Linked DNA regions of Homo sapiens. The protein of the gene in region 3 purifies or fractionates together with the protein of the main gene of each other region. This does not show direct contact. Each region holds a gene or a part of one and is shown on either strand. Other genes may lie near its edges.

What was found.
Region 1: the proteins of TBC1D14 (region 3) and TRAPPC9 purify together in Homo sapiens (affinity purification with mass spectrometry; 2 studies listed by BioGRID and IntAct, with this or other methods). This does not show direct contact.
Region 2: the proteins of TBC1D14 (region 3) and HEPHL1 purify together in Homo sapiens (affinity purification with mass spectrometry; 2 studies listed by BioGRID and IntAct, with this or other methods). This does not show direct contact.
Region 4: the proteins of TBC1D14 (region 3) and GRK2 purify together in Homo sapiens (affinity purification with mass spectrometry; 2 studies listed by BioGRID and IntAct, with this or other methods). This does not show direct contact.

The regions. Positions count from the first base shown.
Region 1 is NC_000008.11:140,374,220-140,378,537, reverse strand, and holds part of TRAPPC9 (trafficking protein particle complex subunit 9), read left to right. Parts: intron 1-4,318. UniProt on the Homo sapiens protein: Functions as an activator of NF-kappa-B through increased phosphorylation of the IKK complex. May function in neuronal cells differentiation. May play a role in vesicular transport from endoplasmic reticulum to Golgi.
Region 2 is NC_000011.10:94,069,061-94,073,378, forward strand, and holds part of HEPHL1 (ferroxidase HEPHL1 precursor), read left to right. Parts: intron 1-1,313; coding exon 1,314-1,482; intron 1,483-3,964; coding exon 3,965-4,104; intron 4,105-4,247; coding exon 4,248-4,318. UniProt on the Homo sapiens protein: Is a copper-binding glycoprotein with ferroxidase activity. It oxidizes Fe(2+) to Fe(3+) without releasing radical oxygen species. May be involved in the regulation of intracellular iron content.
Region 3 is NC_000004.12:6,919,826-6,923,325, forward strand, and holds part of TBC1D14 (TBC1 domain family member 14), read left to right. Parts: intron 1-3,500. UniProt on the Homo sapiens protein: Plays a role in the regulation of starvation-induced autophagosome formation.
Region 4 is NC_000011.10:67,272,180-67,276,497, forward strand, and holds part of GRK2 (beta-adrenergic receptor kinase 1), read left to right. Parts: intron 1-4,318. UniProt on the Homo sapiens protein: Specifically phosphorylates the agonist-occupied form of the beta-adrenergic and closely related receptors, probably inducing a desensitization of them. Key regulator of LPAR1 signaling.

The sequences.
Region 1 (4,318 bases), on a different chromosome or scaffold from region 3:
AGGTTCCACAATAGGCCGTCTGCAAGCTGAGGAGCAAGGAGAGCCAGTCCGAGTCTCAAAAATGAAGAACTTGGAGTCCAATGTTCTAGTTGGGGAAGCATCTAGCATGGGAGAAAGATGTAGGCTGGGAGGCTAGGCCAGCCTCGTCTTTTCATATTTTCTGCCTGCTTATATTCTTAGCTGCGCTGGCAGCAGATGAAGTGTGGGTCTGCCTCTCCCAGCCCACCGAGTCAAATGTTAATCTCCTTTGGCAGCACCCTCCCAGACACACCCAGGATCAATACTTTGCATCCTTCAGTCCCATCAAGTTGACGCTTAGTATTAAGCATTACAGAAGGAAACAAAACCAATCCAAAGAGGGTTTAGTTTAAAGTTGTCCTGGTATAAGAGTGACCACAAACTCCTGGCAGAAAAACATAAGTCCTTCTGGAGTGAGAAGCTACGTTCTGAATGAATCAGTGAACAGAAAACATGAAAAAGGTTCACGGAAGCTCTGGATTGAGATGTTAGACCCCAAATACACTGCCTTTGCCTCTCTCCCAAGGTCTCATTTAAGTATCCCAAAGTATTTTTTTTTTTTGAGACAGTCTTGCTCTGTCACTCATGCTGGAGTGCAGTGGCGTGATCGTGGCTCACTGCAACCTCTGCCCCCCGGGTTCAAGCGATTCACCTGCCTCAGCTTCCCAAGTAGCTGGGATTACAGGTGTGCACCACCGTGTCCATCTAATCTGACAACACATCATTAGTGTTTTGTAGTGTAGTGCGGAAGGCATTAGTCTATTTCGGACAGGCAGGAGAGGAGTTTAGGAAAGGAGTGATGGGGGGTGGGGGACGTTTTAGCTGTGTATGGTCTTGTTTAATTGGCTTTTAATTTCAGGCTGCATGAGTTGTCATTGGAGGGACTAGATTTTATGGAGAACAGACTTAAAGAAACTCAGAACTTGGCTGGGTGCAGTGGCTCATGCCTGTAATCCCAGCACTTTGGGAGGCTGAGGCGGATCACCTGAGGTCAGGAGTTTGAGACCAGCTTGGCCAACATGACGAAACCCTGTCTCTACTAAAAATACAAAAAGTAGCCGGGTGTGGCGTCGGGCACCTGTAATCACAGCTCCTGAGGAGGCTGAGGCGGGAGAATTGTTTGAACCTGGGAGGCAGAGGTTGCAGTAAGCCGAGATTACGCCACTGCGCTCCAGCCTGGGCCACAAGGGTGAAATTCTGTCTCAAAAAAAGAGAAGAAAAAAAAAAGAAACTGAGAACTCTGGTATGGAAAGATGAATGTGGAGAAAAGCTGTAGTCAGAGTTCAAATCATCTTTAAAGTACACATGAACTCGCTTGCTCACTAAACCCAAAGATGGTAAAATAGGCAGTATTTCTTGAAGCCAAAGGAGTGGGTTTTTCAGGTTATCCAAGAATGAATCAAAGGCTGGAACTGAGGTGATCAGGGGTCAAGCGCGGACTTTGCTTGGCCATCTCTTTTGGATGGTGCACTCAACAAGGGCACTGACTGTTTACAAAGTGTCCTTCCTCTAGCATGTGGTGGGTATACCTGGTAGTCTAGGAACCTTCCAGGTATCTGTCCAAGGCATAGGGCACAGCATCCCTGTTTCAGCCATCTCTCCATCCATCTTCTTCCCAACACTGTGATTTTTTTTTTTTTTTTTTTGAGATGGAGCCTCGCTCTTGTTGTGCTGAAGTGCAGTGGCGCGATCTCGGTTCACTGCTAACTTCCACCTCCCAGGTTCAAGTGATTCTCCTGCCTCAGCCTCCTGAGTAGCTGGGACTATAGGCACCCACCATCACGCCCGGCTAATTTTTATATTTTTAGTTGAGATGGGGTTTCACTATGTTGGCCAGGCTGGTCTCGAACTCCTGACCTCAGGTAATCTGCCTGCCTTAGCCTCCCAAAGTGCTGAGATTATCGGCATGAGCCACGTTGCCTGGCCTCAACACTGTGATTCTTTTTTTTTTTTTTTTTTTTTTTTTAGATGGAGTCTTGCTCTGTGCCCAGGCTAGAGTGCAGTGGCGCAATCCCGGCTCACTGCAAGTTCCGTCTCCCAAGTTCACGCCATTCTCCTGCCTCAGCCTCCCAAGTAGCTGGGACTACAGGTGCCTGCCACCACGCCTGGCTAATTTTTTGTATTTTTAGTAGAGACGGGGTTTCACTGTGTTGGCCAGGATGATCCTGATCTCCTGACCTTGTGATCTGCCCACCTCATCCTCCCAAAGTGCTAGGATTACAGGCGTGAGCCACCGCGCCCGGCCTCCAACACTGTGATTCTTTATGGACCTATCTCCTCTACTACTTCATGAAGTTTTGAGGGACCAGGTCTTATTGAAGTTTTTGTTTTGTTTTGCTTTGTTTTCATTCTTACTTTTGAATGATTAAAACTGAAAATGGATCCAATTACTTTAGACAGATGCTTTATAAAGGAAAATCCTTGGTGCATGCCTCATACCCCTACTCCGGGATATGAGAAAGTAGGTTATGTTTTTAACAAACTTTTTTGATAGACATATATGGAAAGTTTGTATAATTTTGAAGATGTATTTTCTCTCCATGTAATTATGGCTGGAAATAGCCGGAGAGAGGAGCAGAGTGTGTTTTCAAACCTGGGAATGTGTGGGGCCTGCTGTTTCCCATCCGGCATTCTCCCACGGTCATCATTTAGTTGAGTGCGGCCACCAGGCTGCCCCTACACATCTGTCACTGACTTGTTCTTCTGATCACTGCAAGTGCCCACGTTTGAGAAGGCTGATGAGGGTTAAGGCATTTTCTAGAGCATCAGTGGCTGGTTAACTTGGGGTTAGAACTTGTGGTGTCAAAGGCATTAACTAACAGTGATATTTCTGTTTCTTGAACACTCACTGAGAGTTTTAGGCTTATGCTCAGTGTTTGCATTATTTCATTGAGTCTTTTTGACAATCGTAATTAGATTTGATGATCCCTGTTTCTTAGGGATATGCAGATGTGGCCCTGGAACTCAGGACTTTACAGCTCCAGGCTGTATTCCTCCCTCTCCATCCTGCCAGAGACAAGTCCTGTGTCTGGAGTTTCCCTCTGATCTTGTCACTTTATTTCTTATTAACAGAATAAAGCAGGTCTAAACTTACTTTCTACTTGGAAATGGAATGGTGAGTTAATATTTGGATCCCTCAGAGTCTGCCTTGTGAATAAAGCTCCTTGTCTTGAGTAGTCTTGGAGCCACTTTCGTTGGAACCTCACATAAACATCTGGGCCCTGAACTTGGACTTCGTGACTGTGCAGCCTATTGAAAGATTAGAACAAAGATGTGCTGATTAATATGCCCTAAAAGAGCAGCAGGTTGGAAATGAGTTTGGGGATTTCATCTCATTTCAAGATTTCCTGAGGATCTTGGCCTAGCTTTGCCAGGGACCATTTTGTACTCCCCGGCTCCTTGTGCCATAGGTGCCTGTGTCGACCAAACATGGCTTTGTCCTGAGGCTCTCTGGGCTCATGGCTTCTCAGTCAATTGTCTGCCTAGTGCCCAAAAGCAGTTGCGCTCGAGCTTTTCCCATTAAGGAACCGTTTTAGGGCTTTAAAGTGATGTCAATTCCATTTGCAATGTAGTATTTATCATTTGACTTCTTATTACACTGAAATGATAAGAGGAATGAAGTAATATTATTACTGATCATAGTATTATTTACAACCTTTCATCTTAGATAGGTTCCATGAAAGAATCAATGGGAGTTCTAACGCATTGGTGGCCAAGGCATGTGACCTTCCCCGGCTGTCACCTTTATTTTAGATGGTGACCTCTTTACAGGCACTGGCTAAGATCAGTATTCGTCTTCTCTGCCCCCTTCTCTGCCCCAACATCTTTGATCATGTCTGGCACATAGTGGGTGCAGCTGAAGGTCTGGGCATTTCCAGATTTGTGATGAAGGCGTTAAGTACCCCCACCTCTTCTTTTTCTTTTTTTCTTTTCTTTTCTTTTTTTTTTTGACATGGAGTTTCACTCTTGTTGCCCAGGCTGGAGTGTAATGGCACAATCTTGGCTCACTGCAACCTCCGCCTCCTGGGTTCAAGCAATTCTTCTGCTTCAGCCTCTCAAGTAGCTGGGATTACAGGTATGCACCACCACGCCTGGCTAATTTTGTATTTTTTAGTAGAGACGGGGTTTCTCCATGTTGGTCAGGCTGGTCTCGAACTCCCAACCTCAGGTGATCTGCCTGCCTCGGCCTCCCAAAGTGCTGGGATTACAGGTGTGCGCCACTGCGCCCGGCCAACCCCTGCCTCCTCTTTACAGTCCTCTTCCACCCCGTCCCTGGCTGCTGTCCTCCAGCACTGGGGCT
Region 2 (4,318 bases), on a different chromosome or scaffold from region 3:
GAAGGTTTCTATTCTCAAAGAGTCTTATGCTGTTAAATCTGGGAAGAAACTGTAGATTTAAAATCAAGATATTAGCTGCCATTTGAGACTAGTAAGATCGCTAAATTAGCCCGATAGTTGTGGACATAAGCTAGTATTTATACGTTCCCTGAAATACAGTATTTCTAAATTGTCCATGCCTTCAGAAAAAAGTTATTGTAAAAAAATTAGAAAATACATATAATTGGAGGTTTTTTAACAAATAGAGACAGGGTCTTGCTATGTTGCCCAGGCTGGTCTCAAACTCCTGGGCCCAAGCAATCCTCCCACCTTAGCCTTTCAAAGTGCTGGGATTATAGGCATGAGCCACTGGATCTGGCCCCTATAAATTGGTTTTAAAATCAGTAGTTCCATAATAGAAATATTTTATATTCACATTTTGGTGAATATCTTCCCTATTTTCTATTTCTTAATATGTAAATATATATGTATTTTAAAAAATGAAATCAGTCTATTAATGCTGCACTGTAGCTAATTTTTCTCATTTACAAATATATCAGAAACACATTTTCATGTCGGTGAATATAGAGCTTACTTCATCATGGTTAATACTTCCAGTGTCCATTATAAGGAGATTACATCTTGCTTAATCAATACTCTATTGCTTAATGCTTATGTTTCCCACCAATTTTTTTGCTATTATAAACAGCACTGATGACTATTATTTATAGATGTTTGCACTTTTGTCTGAACATTTTCTTAGAAAAACTCCTAGATTTAGAATTTCTGGGTCAAAGAGTATGATTTTTTTAAAAAAGCTATGGACATACATTGCCACATTCTCTTTTGGAAATTGTTATTCTTCTACACGAAGTGTATGAGTATGGCTCTTTCCCCATTCATCTACCAACACTGAGAATTATTAGTCTTTCTAATCTTTACTAATCTGATCAATGAACAATAGTATCATTTGAAAACTGTTAAGGTTTGAGTACTATTTGAGTACTGTTAAGGTTGAACCTCTTTTTCATTTGTTTATTGGCCAATATTATTTATTTTGTGAATAAACTATTTCTGTTCCTTGCTCATTTTCTATTGGAGATTTACTTGTTTTCATCTTTATCTGTAAAAGTGATTTACGTATTAATCTTTTGTCATATGTGTCACAAATATCCCTCCTGTTGCCATTTATCCTTTTTAAAAAAACTTTCTTTATGGTCCAATTTTCTGTACAGAAGCCTAAATGTTCAAGAGCCAAATCTATCAGTCTTTTCCTATATGATTCCTTTTGTGATCATTTATGCCTCAGCTCGTGGTTTTCCTCTGTTCTGCAGCTGGTATGCTGGGGCAATACAATGTTGATAACTGCAAAAGTGATATTTTCTACCCCAAGATGAAGGGTCAACAGAGGCGCTACTTTATAGCAGCTGAAAAAATTCTTTGGGATTATGCTCCTCAAGGCTATAACAAATTCAGTGGTCTTCCTCTAAACGCCTCTGGCAGGTAAGCACCCTTTGTTGGTGTTTCTAAGCCTCTCGTCAGAGAAGCATGTGTTAGGCTTTCTCTGTGATCTAATTTGTATTCCAACCACTGCTCTGATGAGCTTATACTGCATAGATGGCATAATGTAGCTGCTTAAGGTGTTCTTAATACTGCAAAAGCACTGCTGAGAACTGGTAGAATATTTTTTGTTTTGTGACTTGACGGCTGAATCAAAACACTAGATCATTCACTCATTGATCAAACATTTCTTGAGTAGGCACTATGTGCAAACTATAGTGCAAAGTGCCATTAGAAATACTAAGCTGACAAAGAATAGAGTAAGGCCTTTACACATATGGAGCAGACAGTCTTGAAGAGGGAATGACAGGAGATGGAGATGACCTGGCCTAAGAGGGTTACCCTTTTTGGTTCAAGGATATCCTGATTTAAGTTGTGTCCCCTTTATGTCCTACAAATATTCTTTTCCTTTCTATTCAGTAAAATGCCATTTTTCTTTCAAAGCCTTACTCTAATGTCACCTCTGAAGTGAAACCTTTGACTCTTGATATAAATGAATTATGTTCTCTCTGCGCTCCCATAGAATATACTATTTAAAAAATTAATCTAGCAATTTATTAGGTGGATCTGGACTCCTGTGACTTGTTAGTATATAATCATATGCAAAGTTGTCTGTGAAGATACTAAAAAATGTACAGTGTGATATCAAGAATCCTTTTTTATATTTAAGGGAATGTTTTAAAAATTCTCTTTGTGATCAATAAAACATCATTTGTTTCTTTAATTGTACATTTTATTCATTCATTCATTCATTCATTCATACTTTCACTCATTATTCTACCAAACGGATGCACTTGAACCCTGTCTAAAGAATTTGTGTGAACCATATGTGAAAGACTCTGATATCAACATTCTCTATTGACTAGTATTTCTCCATAAACAGAATAATGAGAATTAGCATTCAAAATTGTCTTAGGAGCCTTCTAGAATTCTGAAGTGCCTTCTGAAATAGGAAAGATTAAACTATATTCAATCAATGTTTAATGTGATATATGAAAGCACAAAGTGCAAGATGACATGAGGGATGCAAGGATATCTAAAGCAATAAAATGCAGAGGAAGAAGCTGGGTTCACAAGAGTAGAGAAGTAACTGCAAGTTACAAATAAAAGTGAGGTGAGTTGTCCTGGTAGTGAGTTATCTGGATGCTCAGAGAGAGCTAAGCTGGCCAGGGAACACATTATAGAGGAAGTGAGACTTAAGCAAAATCTTAAGGAGTGATAGAATTTATTTAACTGAATAGGGAAGAGAGGAATTTTAGATGGAGGGGTTGATGCAAAGCACCTGTGGCATGGGAGGAATGAACAGATGAGACTGCAGTAACAATTTGCATAGAAGAATGGGCACTGGCATGGAGAAATAGAGAATTGGGGTAAACGGGATATCAATTGCAGAGGTCCTTTAATCTTTTTGAACATTATTTGATTGGCAATTGGAAGCAATTGAAGATTTTGGAGCAGGTAAATAGCAATAACAATTGCCATTTTGGAGATTAATGTATTAAGTGAAAAAATAAGCACAGTCTTGGCCATTGAAAGTAATTTGTAATCACGGTCTTGGCCATTATGACCATTATGGCTTACTTTTGCACCAATCTAATAGTTGTGTGTCTATGCTGAGAAGAAAAGTGAATGAGCCAGTATCAGATAGAGGATGCAGTTCAGAGGTTCATATAATGGGCTCCACCCAGTGTGATTAGGGCATGAACTGGGGTCGTGGTAGTGGGAAGAAAGGAAAAGAAAAGATGCACAAGGAGGATAGAAAAGGAAGAGTGCCAAAAAATTTTACAAAGTAAGGATGAATGAGTTAAGGGAATGAAGCAGAAAAAGAAAATCTACGTGGCTGCAAGAGTGATGGCACCATTGATGGAAATAAGATAGTATAGAGACAGTATTAGTCAGAATTTATATTATCATATTCACGACTTGGAAATTTTGCATTTCATGCATATGGTTTATATGGTAGCCCTCCAATAATTACACTATTTGATTAACTAGACACTCCATTCCTTAATAATGCCAGAAATCAAAGAGCTTACTAGATGCAGAGAATATTCATATTAATATCAGCAAGAGAGAGAGGGATGCTTATTCTGCAGAGAAACCAGTTAGCTCTTTGTTACTTTGTAGAACACCATTCTGGAACTCTACTATTGGTAAATAAGGAGTTTACTTGTGACTGGTTCAGTGCTGGACCTCTTGGGAAGAAAGTACAATGGCTGAGAGAAATGAGCTTGAGTATCACCCAGCCTCTGAAGACTTTTAGGGCTGGTTAACTATTCCTGGGAACTCTGTCAAGGCCTGTGCTGTCTTTTCTGGGGACATGGGTGGGCGAGTGGACTAAAAGTGATAGAATGAAGTTCTATAATTAAAGTATTTGGTGGATATGTTGAGAAGTGTCCTCAATCACATTCCTATGTCTTTTCAGTGACTCTGATCTCTACTTCACACAAGGGGACAACAGAATAGGAGGAAAATACTGGAAGGTTCGGTATACTGAATTTGTTGATGCAACTTTTACTAAAAGAAAGAGACTCTCTGCTGAAGAAGCCCATCTTGGAATTCTTGGTACAGTAAAACCATCCCCCATGCATTGAACCCAGGGAGATGTTTTAGCTGGGCATGTACATCTGCACAGAATGACTCTTCTGCTTTACTTCTTTCTGTCTCTTTTCATTCTCTTCTCTCTCTTCTTCTGGATATTTTTTCAGGCCCAGTCATCAAGGCAGAGGTGGGTGATACCCTGTTAGTGACCTTTGCCAACAAAGCCGACAAGGTCTAT
Region 3 (3,500 bases):
GGTCAGGCTGGTCTCAAACTCCTGACTTCGTGATCTGCCCGCCTTGGCCTCCCAAAGTACTGGGATTACAGGCGTGAGCCACCGTGCCCGGCCTATTTATTTATTTTGAAATAGCGTCTCGCTGTGTTGCCCAGGCTGGAGTGCCGTGGCGCTGTCACAGCTTACTACTGTCTTGAACTCCTGGGCTCAAGAGATCTCCCTGCCTCAGCCTTCTCAGTAGCCGGGACTACAGGTGTGCACTACCATGCCTGGCTAATTTTTACTTTTGGTAGAGATGGGGGTCTCACTGTGTTGCCCAGGCTGAATCAAATATTTATATATAGTTGAGTCTATTTCTGAATTCTGCATTTCATTTAATTCCTTCACATTTCTATTTTTGACTCAGCGCTGCACTCTTACTGGCTCCTTCAATCTCTGGGAAGGAGGGAGATTAGTCCCCTCCCTTTCTCTCCTTTGTTTTTCTGGAGACAGGATTGTGCCCTGTTGCCCAGGCTGGAGTGCAGTGGTGATCATAGCTCATTGCTATGAGTCCTTGAACTCCTGGGCTCAAGTGGTCCTCCTGCCCCAGCCTCTTGAGTAACTGGGACTACAGGCATGAGCCACTGCACCTGGCTCCCCTTTTTCTGCTTTTAATGAATTTGCTTTTGCTGTGTTGACACTGAGGCAGGCCAGGCTTCCTAAAGTAGGAGCGTGCAGGCTCCTTACAAAAGCTGACGCCCAAGCAGGAGTGGTTATCATTCTTTCTTCTGTGCTTGAAAACCTTCAGCTCCTCTCTGTTTGATGATAGCAGCTACCAACAAAGTGCCTGTTGGGGGTCAGGTGCCTATTAAATGCTTTTCTTGTGGTACTTGATTTAATTCTCCCAAGGCAATATAGAGCCCAGGAGCGTGTGAGTCCAAAGCCCTGTTCTTTCTGTTGTTCTCTTGTATGGACCAGATTTGAATGCACCACCTGATTTCTTTTTTACTTTGAGACAGAGTTTTGCTCTTGTTGCCCAGGCTGGAGTGCAGTGGCGCGATCTCCGCTCACTGCAACCTCCACCTCCCGAGTTCAAGCAATTCTCCTTCCTCAGCCTCCTGAGTAGCTGGGGTTACAGGCATCTGCCACCACGTGCAGCTAATTTTTTGTATTTTTAGTAGAGATGAGGTTTCACCATGTTGGCCAGGCTGGTCTGGAACTCCTGACCTCAGGTGATCCACCTGCTTCGGCCTCCCAGTGTGCTGGGATTACAGGCGTGAGCCACTGCACCCGGCCATTTTAAAGAAAAATAAAAGATAGCAGTTGATGCCAGTGTTCTCAGTGTGCTGGGGCTGTGCTCTCCGGGCTGGTGTGCCACATACCCTCCCTTCCTCATTTGTCTTAGGCCAGAGAACTTTATTTTTTATTTATTTATTTTTGAGACAGGGTCTCTTTCTGTCATTCAGGCTGGAGTGCAGTGGTGTTATCAGGGTTCACTGCAGTCTTGACCTCCTGGGCGGGCTCAAGTGATCCTCCCACCTCAGCCTTTCAAGTAGCTAGGACCACAGACGTGCCACCACACCCAGCTAATTTAAAATTTTTTTTAAAGACAGAGTCTCCCATTGTTGCCGAGGCTTGCTTTTGAATTCCTAGGCCGAAGCGATCCTCCTGCCTCTACCTCCCAAAATGCTGGGATCACAGGCATGAGCCACCATGCCTGGTTAGGCCAGAGAACTTTATTTTTTATTTTTTTATTTTTTGAAATGGAGCCTCGCCCTGTCGCCCAGGCTGGAGTGCAGTGGCATGATCTTGGCCCACTGCAACCTCCACCTCCTGGGTTCAAGTGATTTTCCTGCCTCAGCCTCCATGAGTAGCTGGGATTGTAGGCATGCACCACCACACCTGGCTAATTTTTTTTTTTTTTTTTTTTTGAGACAGAGTCTTGCTCTGTTGCCCAGGCTGGAGTGCAGTGGCATGATCTCGGCTCACTGCAACCTCCACCTCCTGGGTTCAAGCAATTCTCCTGCCTCAGCTTCCCTAGTAGCTGAGATTACAGGCGCACACCACCACGCCTGGCTAATTTTTGTATTTTTAGTAGAGATGGGGTTTCACCATGTTGGCCAGGCTGCTCACAAACTGCTGACCTCTCGACCTGCCCGCCTCAGCCTCTCAAAGTGTTGGGATTACAGGTGTGAGCCACTGCGCCCGGCCATGCCAGAGAACTTTAGACATGCCCTTAGATGTGTGCGTGTGATTAATGGATTTTGTTTGTTTGTTTGTTTTTTTAGAGATAGTGTCTTTCTCTGTTACCCAGGCCAGAGTGCGGTGGTGTAATCATGGCTCACCACAGCCTTAAACCTCCCAGGCTCAAGTGATCCTCCCACCTCAGTCTTCAGAGTACCTGGGACTGCAGGCATGTGCCACCACCCCCAGTTGATTTTTTTTAGTCTTCTGTAGAGACAGGGTCTTGTTACGTTGCCCACGCCGCACTGACGGTTTTGACTCTACTCACTCAAACCTCGGAGGTTGTGGTCTTTACTCTTCCTTTATTGATTATCTTCACTGAGCTGGCCTTCTGACCTGGGTTTGTGTAATCCTAAACCAAGCCTTTCTAACCTACGTGTGGTCTCCTTTGGGGTCCCGTAGATCCCAGCTCTGCTGTTAAACAGCAGTGTGATCTTAGACCCGTTTCTTAGTCTTGCCGAGCCTTGGTTTCTTCCGTGGTAAAGGGGATACTACACCCAGCCTCGTAGATGTGAGTAAGCGTGACTGAAACATTTGTGGAGAGGCCTGGCTGCTGCAGATGGCATACATAATTTATTTTGTTGTTGTTTTCCGTCTTAATGAAGATATCTTAGGATTTTAATGCTGTCTCAGAACAAGTAGATCCTTGACTTATGTATGGGTTATGGATTCACATACTTTTGACAGATTATCATTTCACCACTCCCCCAAAAGAAAAAACCCAACCGCCGCCCCCCAAGCCCAGTCCTCACGCTCCTGGTGCTGCCCTGGGGATGGAGATGTGACTGGTAGGGAGCGTGATGATTATTTTTACTTCGGGTGCATCCTTTGTTTGGGTTATCTTCCTGCTATGTTATATCATGACAGTGTATGTTAAAACTCTAGCTTCTGGGCCAGGCGTGGTGGCTCATGCCCAAAATCCCAGCATTTTGGGAGGCCGAGGTGGGTGGATTGCTTGAGGTCAGGAGTTTGAGACCAGCCTGGCCAACATAGGGAAACGCTGTCTCTACTAAAAATACAAAAATTAGCTGGGCGTGGAAGCGCATGCCTGTAATCCCAGCTACCTGGGAGGCTGAGGCACAAGAATCGCTTGAACCCAGGAGGCAGAGGTTTGCAGTAAGCCCAGATGGCGCCACTGCCCTCCAGCCTGGGCGACAGAGCGAGAGTCTGTGTCAAAAAACAAAAACCACTTCTAGCTTCTGGACTTGAATCAAAACTTGGGTATGTGGAACCTTTTCAAGGCTTTCTCCCTTAAGTGAGATCAGACCATTTCAGCTGTGTGTCAGAGGTGTGGCATC
Region 4 (4,318 bases), on a different chromosome or scaffold from region 3:
CTGGTCAGGGACGGGAGGGCAGCCAGGCCAGAGGCTGGGCACAAGTCAGGGTCCTCTGAGCCCTGCACCCAGCTCTTCCACAGAGGTCAAGGGGGGGATGGAGGGTGCTCTAGTGGAGGCCGTTTCTCAGGGAGCCTTTGGACATTTTCTTTGCCACGAACTCATTGTGGGCCTCGGAGCACGTGGCCCAGCCAGCTTCCTTGCCATCAGCAAGAGTGTGTTTGTCTCTGACTTGTCACCCCCTCCTGTCCACACAGCTACAGCCTCTGACCCCGAGCAGGAGACACCTAAGAGAGCCCAGGCCACAGAGGATGGCCTGGACTTTGCATTTCTTCTGAACCATGAGGTGCCAGAAGGGACCGGAAGTGCTCCCTCAGCACCCACTCCTTCCCTGTCACCCAGTGCTCAGTGCTGCAGCTGCTCACTGTCTTGGGCTGAGCCTGCTCCGGGAGCAGTAGGAGCTGGTGCAGGCCGCTGTAACTGCAGGGGTGCCAAGGTGGGACTGACTGCTCCTTCCCAAAGCTGGGTGGGCACCAAGTACCTCTGTGCCAAGGAGCCCTTGATACTTTGGCAGGGCAAGCCACGGGCTCTACCCACTGGGCCCGCAGTAGAGCAATGCAGTGCCTGAAGCTGGTCTGTGAGCAGAGGAGTCCCACCCTGCTCGGCTCAGCCCTGGCCACAGGCCCCATCCTCCAAGGCCCCATCCTCTCCGAGGACACGGCAAATGTGGAGCAGAGGCTTGAGCAAGACCAGTTACTGTGTGATTCTAGCATGGACTGTCGGTGAGCCGTGGGGCACTGAGAAATGGGGCTCTGGCGGCTCTCTCCCATGGCCCAGCAGGCGGGGCACGGCGGGCAGCATGGCCAGCCTGGCATATTAGAAGCCCTCCTTCTGCCGTGTCCACCCAGGCTTTGTAAATGGCCAGTGTGACGGTGGCGATTCAGCATCTCATTGACATCCTCATTTTACAGCTGGGGAAACTGGACATTTCAAGTTTGTGACCAGGTGGTGAGGGCCACTTGGAACCCAGGCACCCGTCCAACGGCCAGAGCAAAGGCAACTCTGAGGCCCTTGCCCAAAGGTGTTGGGAACCTTAGCGTCCTTCCATCTGGGACTGTTGAGGCCGCTTGGTTCTCCTGATGCTCCAGAGTAGATCTTGGGAGCCACGTTCCCCCGGATCTCAGGGTTGCTGACCTGGGTGGGGGACAGGGACACGCTCTGGGCTCACTGCCACTCCAGACTCTGCCAGTATCAGGGAGCAGTGTTGGAGACAAGGTGACCCAGTCCAGGAGGCTGTCCCACCCCTGTGCTCGCCCGTGCTTGCCACCCTGGCAGGAGCTGCCCCCAGTGGCAAGTTCTTCCAACCTGCCAGTTCCCTTGGCGGCCAGACCCATGGGAATAGACAGGAAACCCTAAAATTGCCACTTTGGGGGCCTTCCATTCAAGGACTCTGCTCAGGCCTGACCTCGTGTTTGGTTTCTTGCTTGGGGGGAGGGGGGTTGTTTATTTTATTTAAAAAACATTTTTTTCTTTTTAAGGAAGAAAGTGGAGTGCTGTGGGCTGGGAAGAATGTGGTGGCCATGCCCAGGCGTGGCTGCTGAGGGGAGAGATGGCCTCAGAGCCCCGGGTCCTGCTTCCTGCTGTTCCCAGGCCGGGGCTGACAGCAGAGCCCCTGGGAAGGAGAAAGGGCCTGCCCGGCAGGTTCCCCTGGCTGTCGCAGGCAGGGAACCAAGCATGCTTCCCCCTTGGAGACTTTGTGTGTCCAGTTGAAAAGTGGCAGTGGCTACTCCCTGGCTCCTAGGTGGCCATTCCCTCTGCCAAACTGGCACCTTTTTTTTTTTTTTTTTTTTTGAGACAGAGTCTCACTCTGTCACCCAGGCTGGAGTGCAGTGGCACGATTTTGGCTCACTGCAACCTCTGTCTCCAGGGTTCAAGCGATTCTTCTGCCTCAGTCTCCTGAGTAGCTGGGACTACAGGCGCACGCCACCATGCTGGGCTAATTTTTGTATTTTCAGTAGAGACGGGGTTTCACCATGTTGGTCAGGCTGGTCTTAAACTCCTGACCTCATGATTCGCCCGCCTCGGCCTCCCAAAGTGCTGGGATTACAGGCGTGAGCCACCGCGTCCCGCCAAGCTGGCACCATTTTTGCAGGCTCCTAAGAAGCAAGTCTGGGGCTCAGTGGGGCTTACTGCTGAAGCCCGGTGGCCCCCATTCCTGGGACAATGCCCGGCTCCTGGTGGGTGACCCCTACAGGCTGGGATTGCTTTGCCTGTCATCTGCATCTGCCTGTCGCTACCTTCCGCTTGACCAGCACCTTTTTTTTTTTTTTTTTTTTTTTTTTTGCTTTTTTTCATCCCCTTCTGTGGACCAAAATGTCCTGGCCCACCTCCCAGGTGAGATGCAGGCCCCTGACCTTGGGGTTTTCTCCACGTTCCAGTCTCCCAGTGCACAGCCTGTGCCCTGAGGGTCGCCCAGGGCCCAGGCCTCCTGTCTGCAGGTGCCAAGGGCAGGGACCGTGTCTTTCTCAATTCAAGAGATTTTTATGAAGCCCTTGCTGTGTGTGAAACACCACAATCTCCGTCCACCGTTTCCTGTGTCCCTGGGAGTCCCACATGCCGGGAAACATGTCCTTGACGGTGGCTGGTGGACATGAGCTGGCGTGTGGCCCGAAGGGGCGGGTGTGCTGGTGTGGACGCGGGGCCCATCCTCGGAGCTCCTGTCAGTTCTCAGAGGGCATCCTCACTCCCCGGTGGGGGGCATGGGCCCCCCTCTTCCCATCCAGGCAGGGTCTGTTCCAAAGCAGTCATAGGATGCGAACTCAGGGTCACCTAGGCCCATCCTTGTCTTCAGTGCCCTGCTTCCTGCTGGAGACAACTTTGGAAGAGGCCGCGGCCCCTCCCAGCCTCTGAGGGTGGGGAGCAGGCCAGGGGGTCGCGGCCTTGGAACCGTGCTCATGGCAGCCCTGCTGTGCTCGTGCTATCTCGCTCGGCCTTTCCTGAGGAAGGCTGGAACCAAGTGAGATCAGGGGCCGAGGCCCGGGAGTCCACTGCAGCCCTTCCTGGAAGGACAGTGCCCAGTGGAAGCGGATAAGAGCCCCCTCTCGAGGCCGAGGTCAGAGGCCAGGCAGGGTCCACAGGCCAGGTCCGCACTGTCTGGAGCTGCTCTCCGCAGACGGCTCTTCTGGCTGAAGCTGCCATTCTTCCAGACCCTCGGGCCCAAAGCCTGGAAGCCCTCACGGGGCTGGCCTCATAACCCTTCTCCCGGTCCCCGACAGCCTGAGCCTTCTCCCACCCACCCCCTTCCCCTTCTTCCTGCCCAAGTGTTGCCTCTGCCTGGGCTTCCTCCGCGTGGCGCCTCCAGTGGAGTCGGGCCACCCACCGCCCTGGACCAAGCCTCCTGAGTCCTGCTCTCCTGCCCACTCCTTGGCTGTGAAGCCCCCTGGTTTGCAAGGCCCTGCCCTCCGCCTCACCATGGCCTTTGTGTGCCCTCTCTCCTGCCCCATTGGCCCCTTGCTCATCCCTGGACATACTGTCCCCTGCCTGTTCCCACGTCTACCGACCCCCCTGGCTTCGCCAGCTGCCGAGATCCCACTTGCACTCCAGGAACCCAGTGGAGTTCCACCTTCTCCACACAGGCTTTCCAGACCCAGAGGCCTCCTCTCCTTCCCAAGGCTTCTGCACACGCTGTCTGGTATCACAGGCTCAGAACCATGCCCTGGGCAGGGCTGTTTGGAGCAGGGGGTGGCTTTGGCATGAGGTACACAGTGCCTCAGGGGTAGATGTGCAGCGGGTCCTCGTGACCACAGCCTGGGTGGCCAGTCCGACCAGCCCTGGGCTGGGCTCCTAGGGGCAGGCAGGGCCGGGGTGCAGAAAGGCAGGGGCCATGGCAAGCACAGAGAACCTGGACTTGCGGATCCAAATCTCCACCAGCTGCAGTCATTTCACGGGAGGCCTGCTGGTGGCCCCATAGACCTGCAGGGCCATGTGAGCGTGACATGGGCTCAGGTGTGTTGTCCCTTCAGGCCCCCAGCCTTGCAATGCCCTCAGCATGGCAGCTACACGTTACCCCAGGAGCCCAGACTAGTGAGGACCAGATGCAGGCCTCAGCTGGCTGTTGGGACAGACCGGCAGGGCTGGGCTTGAGGTGGGCCAGGAGAGGGCAGGAGGGGACAGTAAGGTGGTATTTGAGGCCGGGAGTGTAGCCTGGTGTGGCGCTCCCAGACAGCACTCAGTGTGGGGTGAGATAAACAGGGTGGGGGATGTCGGGTTGGGTTTTGAGGGTCACAATGGCCAGGCCCTCCCCTATGGCCATACCAAG